Regions from separate parts of the Homo sapiens genome. Here region 1 is linked to region 2. The links come from fine-mapping of genetic effects on gene expression. A gene starts in region 2. The other region holds a variant in brackets. All regions are shown on one strand. Distances are between the middles of the regions.

Region 1 (2,907 bases), 50 kb before region 2:
TTCTCACTCATAGGTGGGAATTGAACAATGAGAACACTTGGACACAGGGCAGGGAACATCACACACTGGGGCCTGTTGTGGGGTGGGGAGATGGGGGAGGGATAGCATTAGGAGAAATACTTAATGTAAATGACGAGTTAATGGGCGCAGCAAACCAACACAGCACACAACCCTGCATGTTGTGCACATGTACCCCAGAACTTAAAGTATAATAATTTTAAAAAGTTTAGTTTTTAAAATCTTTTTTTAAAAAACAAACCTAATACTATATAATGACATCAACGTACAATGTAAAACTCTGATTTTGAGATTAAAATTGATGAACTTGGCTTCTGTGATGACCTTGAACTCTGTTTAAGATGCAAATCTAACTCAGACTTTGATTTTGAGATTAAAATCTATGAACTTGGCCTCTGATGACCTTGAACTCTCTGTAAGATGGAAATCTCTTCACCTATTGAAATCTCTTAAACTACTAATGGCAAGCGATAGGACCAGATGATATTTAGTAGTTTCATATAGCAAAATAAGGTTTTAAATCTGTCAACAAACAGGAATAGATCCAAAAACTGGGCAGCTGAAATGGACAGGTACAGAGTCCATTCTTCTGAAGTACTCAATGGCAGCAACAGGCTTGCAGGCCAGGACCTCTCACTCCCTGTCCAACCTAAGAACCAAGACACTGTCACTGGACCTATGCCTATCAAATGGCCCTTTCTAGGTATGTTCAGTTTCTCAACCTCAAAGAGGTCCCAGGAGAACCCCATAGCTAGTAAATCCCAGCAACCCAGAAGCCTCCTGGGTACCCTATACTACTGGGTAACAAAGAAGCAGATGAAGAGAAACCCCAGTTTATAGAAATGTTTGAGCAAACAAATGAAAAAGAAATGACTGAATGAGATCATTGTTTTGCAACCCCATATTAATTCACGGATCTAGACAGTAGATATCAACGGCTGCTAACATCTCAGACACTGTGTGCTTTCGAAATGTTCATATACATATATTCTGAATGTGAGCAAATCTCTAGATCCACTATCAATTTACAAGAAATACAAACTTGCACAATGGGGATTCTATCAGCCAAAAAAAAAAAAAAAGAGAGAAGCTATAGATTAAAAAAATACTTAAAGATTTTTTTTTTTTTTT[A/TTA]GACAGAGTTTCACTCTTGTTGCCCAGGCTGGAGTGCAATGGCGCGATCTTGGCTCACCGCAACCTCCGCCTCCCAGGTTCAAGCGATTCTCCTGCCTCAGCCTCCTGAGTAGCTGGGATTACAGGCATACACCACCACACCTGGCTAATTTTGTATTTTCAGTAGAGATGGGGTTTCTCCATGTTGGTCAGGCTGGTCTCAAACTCCCAACCTCAGGTGATCTGCCCACCTCGGCCTCCCAAAGTGCTGGGATTACAGGCGTGAGCCACCGCGCCCGGCCAAAGATTTGTTTTTCAAAAGAAACAACCACCTATGATATTTGTCATTTTGTCACCCAAGCATGTATTCCTAAAGAAAAGCAAGGAAATGATTGCCATAAAGGTCAGGATAATTACTTTTATGAGAAGGGGACTGTAAAAGGCTTCTGGGGTGGCTGGCAAAGTTCTAGTGTTCTGGTTGGTGTTAGGAGGGTATTCGCTTTATGACAATTCATTAAAGCCATACTACTTTGTCTTCTGTGGATTTCTATAGGTTTTATTTTTTACAATAAAAAAAAGACTTAGATGAGTGAGATTCTAAAGGTAATTCCAGATTATCCATTAAGCTAAGTATGTACTGAGGCACTTTGAGCATCAGTAAATAAGGCCCTTCCCTACTACCACTACTCCAATTACGAAAAAAAAAAAATTTGGATTTGATACTTTAAAAAGTCAAAATTCTGGCCTAAACCAATCCTCCTGCCTCAGGATTGCAGGCATGAGCTACTGTGCCCGGCTGGGTCCATTCCTAATTGCTCATCTACACTAAATGCTTTTTCTAACTCATTCGGGACACCCTGGCACAGGAAAGAAGCAGTTTCTTCTAGAAATTCCTAGTTGAATAGGAAAGTCCTTGCTGCAAGGAGCTCAAATTTGGGAACAGAAGTTGCATAGGAACACAGATCATTATCTTATGAGCTGAGAGCTACAACAAAGATATCTAGAAAGAAGCGAAGACATACAATCATTTTCTGAAATCCTGAGCCTATTTATGTCATTTATATAGTGCCACCTTTGGAGAGGAGGAAAGCCATTTCTGATTTAAGCAGAGAAATGGGGAAGGCAGCAGGGAACATACTCATAGAATTCAGTAAACATTAAGATAGCTTAACAAGAAAATCAGAGATGGATATCAATGTTCTTTACATTATATTAAAATGGGGAGGAGGACATACAAGCAGTAGAATAATCTTAAATACATTTACTTAGTTAAAATCTAAGATTCACATCTAATTTAAATAAGGTTAAACAAGCTTCCTAGACCAAGTTTACTAAAATTCACTATTCATCAGCAATGATATAAATAAGGAATAATATCATCACCAGATGAAACCTTGGATAGTTTCTTTTAAGCAGTATTTTTCATTAGTACTTTATATCCCAAAAAAACTCAGTTTTGCCAAGTCAGGTATTTGTCCATGAAGGGGAAAACGTGCGTTCCTAAGGTACTGTGAGAGGCCACAACCTCACACGCTACATGTATCTTTTGTACTCGGGAGGTAAAGCAGAGTATAAGGTTGGCTTTAATGAGATCATTTCACAGCAGAGCTGGAATTTCACAGAGTTCTAAGATTTCTTATAACCTGCTTTTTTTTTAACTACTCAAAACAAAAGGATTATTCAGTACAATCACTCTAAGTATTTATTTTATAAAGGCTGTTGCCATTCATTTTGAACAATGAAACAGAACAAAGTATGTTAGCATGTGCAAATATATAC
Region 2 (2,907 bases):
TGGCACGTTATTTAAATTTACAATTAGGAATATCTCCTTAATGGATAATTTACAAATTTATAATTAGGAATACCTCCTATTATTCTTACAATAATTCTAAGAAATTTTAAGGGTAAAAAAAATATGGGACACAGAAACATTTGTGAACCTTCAGTTCCTGAACCAATTTAAAAAACAAAAAACAAAGAAACCAGGCTAAGCTCAAATCAGAGTGCCTCAATACCCAACGTTAATTTCACTACATCTCCCTTCCAAACACAATATGCCTGTTCCCGATCTGGGAGTCGGTTCAAGTTTTCAGGTGAAGACTAACGACAGACAGCGAAACCCCCAAACGCGCGTTTTTAAACTCTGAGGGGCAAAGTCAGTCACACCCACTAGCAGGGCCCGGCGGGGGGCGGGAGCCCCTTCCCAGCTCGGGACCTCCGGCCAGTCTGGGCGCCCCCGCCAAGAGCTCGCAGCCCAGGCTCCCGCGCCAAGGACGGCCTGAGGGATGCCACAGGTGGCCCGGAGGGCTCGTTCCCCAACTGGCAGTGAGGCCCTAGCCCACCCCCGCCGCCCAGAGGCCGAAGGTGTCCTGCAGCCTCCACGTGGGCACCTCGAAGCCTAGGGAAGTTCCTAACAGGGCTCAGGTGGCCCCTCGGGTCCGTTAGCCTGGCGCGCGGCGTCGGCCCGGGGCAGCGACTCCAGCCTTGCCTCGGGGCCGGGTCCCCGGAGGGGCGTCGGGAAGCCGGTGGGCGGAGGAGCCCGGGTACGGGCGGCTCCTCGGCCCCGCCGGAGCAGCCAGCCCCACATCCCTCCCGGGACCCCTCGGGGCACCGCGGGCCGGCGCCGCCCCAGCCCCCCGCGCGGCCGGGTCTCCGGGACAACAGCCGCCGTGTCCGAACGGGCCCGCGCCCCCGCGGCCGGCGCCCACCTGTCCCGGGGGTCGATCCAGCTGGTCCTCCTGGTGTTGTGGTCAATGTAGAAGACCTTGCCGTCGTAGTCCCTGGCCTCCTCCCAGCCCCGGGGCAGCGGCAGCTGACCGCTCCCGGCCCTCCTAGGCATGGTCGGCGGCCTCGCCGGCGAGCGGCGCCTCCATAGGTACCGGGCGCGGGACGCGGCGGGAACGCGGCTGCCGGGCTAGGCTGCCAACCCGCGACGCGGGCGCCGGCGAGGGGCTGAGGGGCGCAGGGCGCGGGGCGCGGCGGAACCACGCGCGGGAGGTGCCTCAGGAAACGCTGTTCGCGGCCCCGCTGCGGATCAGTCCACCATGTCTGCGTCGGAGCCGGCGAGCGAACCCTCCTCCCCCTCGCCGCCGCTGCCTCCGCCTCTTCCTCCTCCTCCGCCCCGTCCCCCTCTGGCCGCCGAGGGTCGCGGCGCCCAGGCTGCCGGAGCCGCCGCCGTCTGGGCTCGGATCCGGGAAGCTGCGGCGCTGCCGCGGCAGCGGCGGGCCCCTCATTTGCATGCGATTAGCATGCGCCCGCCCGCCTCATCTGCATGCGCATTCCTCGCGCCGCATTCCTGAGCTTAACCCCGCCGCTGCCGGCGTCGCCGCACCAGCTCGGACGCACTGCCCCGCGGGGCCGCGGCTCCAGGTGGGAGGAAGGCGGGCGAAGGAATGTGCGGCCAGCTCCCTCCCCTTGACCCCAGATAGCTCCCCTGGGCCAAACGCCGAGAGGTTTTAGAGTTTCTGGACGGGGAAGATTGCAAAAGTCTCCGCAACCTTCTCAACCTCTTTCGTCTTCTAGGGAAACCACAAAACTTTCGAGAGGAAAGGGGTGGCGGGCGGGGAGCTCTCCTCCGGAGAAAAAACCTCAACAAGCGGAGAGGGCACAAAGGCTCCCCACGCCGCGCCCCGAGCCCCTCCGGCACCCCAAGGGCGGTCCGGGGTGGTGGGAAAGCGCCAAGCCCTGGGAGTGCGTCGGTGGGTCCGGGACGGCGGGGCCTCCGCCAGGGCTCCTGGCCCTCGATGACCTCGGCTGAGACCGCGAGCCGCGCGGCGGAAAGCGGAGGAACTCCCGTCCGGCCCTGTAGCCGCCCGCACCGCGCCCCGTCACCCGCCGCCCCTTCGCGTCCGGGCGCTCCAGCCGCGGGGCCCCGGAAGCTCCTGGTCCCTGGCCTCCCCTGCTTGGTTCGGGGCGGTTGGCCGTGGACGCGCCCCGACTCTAGTCCCTTCCGTCCAGCCGCCCGCCCCAGGATGTCCCCCCACCGCAGCCCCGCCGTGGCCAGGAGGTGTGGGCGGCCACGCCGGAGGGACCCACGGCGGCGCCGGACGCCCGCCCTTCCTAGGCCCTGGCCCGGCCGGGGTGGGCCGGGACGTTCCCTGTTGCATAGGCATTTATTTATTCAGCAGCTACTACGTACGTGCTGGCCCGCACTGCCGAGGGACCGGACGCCTGCCCCAGGCGGGACAATGCCGGGTGCAGCGCTGGCGGGGCCTGGACGCCAAGCTTCAGGGTCCCCAGCCCCTCAGTCAGAGGGGGCGCCTCCCAGGCCCTGGACTCCTCTCCAGCCGGGTCTACACCACCGTCCCCCGTCATCTTCTTCTGGGTTACTGAGCAGCTTCTTTTAAAATAGCAACACCGAGGAAGGCCCCGAAGCCCAGTCTTGCACCTCGTGGTGTGAAGTCGTTTAATCCTGCCCGCTAATGCGTAAGGACTTTCCACCGTGTGCAGGACTCCGCGCTGGGCAGGGGCTCTCGCAGGGTTTGAACCGACCTCCGCCTCCCCTGCGGGTTCACAGGCCTGCGAGGAAGTCGCGTGAAGGAGATTCGCTACTGTGTGAGGCTGGCCTGCGCGGCGTGGGCAGTAGCTGTCCGGGGCTGGGGACAGCTTTCGGCTCCCCAGGCCATCCCGTCGGGGCATCTGCGGCCAATCTCGAAGGTGGAGAGGCTCAGGGTTGGAACAGACTTCACGGAAGGGGTCC

The links. PIP is the estimated chance that this variant, and not a neighbour inherited with it, causes the effect.
Region 1: its variant is fine-mapped to the expression of WWC2 in whole blood (INTERVAL, PIP 0.96).

Annotation. Positions count from the first base shown.
Region 1 is chr4:183,147,864-183,150,770 of GRCh38, reverse strand. All of the region lies in intron 1 of WWC2 (WW and C2 domain containing 2), which reads right to left. Among named protein-coding and RNA genes, the nearest start is that of WWC2, 50 kb to the right of the region's middle. The variant A/TTA (reference allele first, on the strand shown) is at 1,150.
Region 2 is chr4:183,097,632-183,100,538 of GRCh38, reverse strand. WWC2 (WW and C2 domain containing 2) reads right to left here and starts at 1,282. Exons shown (of 23, transcript NM_024949.6): 1 at 917-1,282. The coding sequence starts at 1,047. WWC2-AS2 (WWC2 antisense RNA 2) reads left to right here and starts at 1,340. Exons shown (of 1, transcript NR_024008.1): 1 at 1,340-2,907. RefSeq lists a silencer at 2,229-2,523 and an enhancer at 2,229-2,523.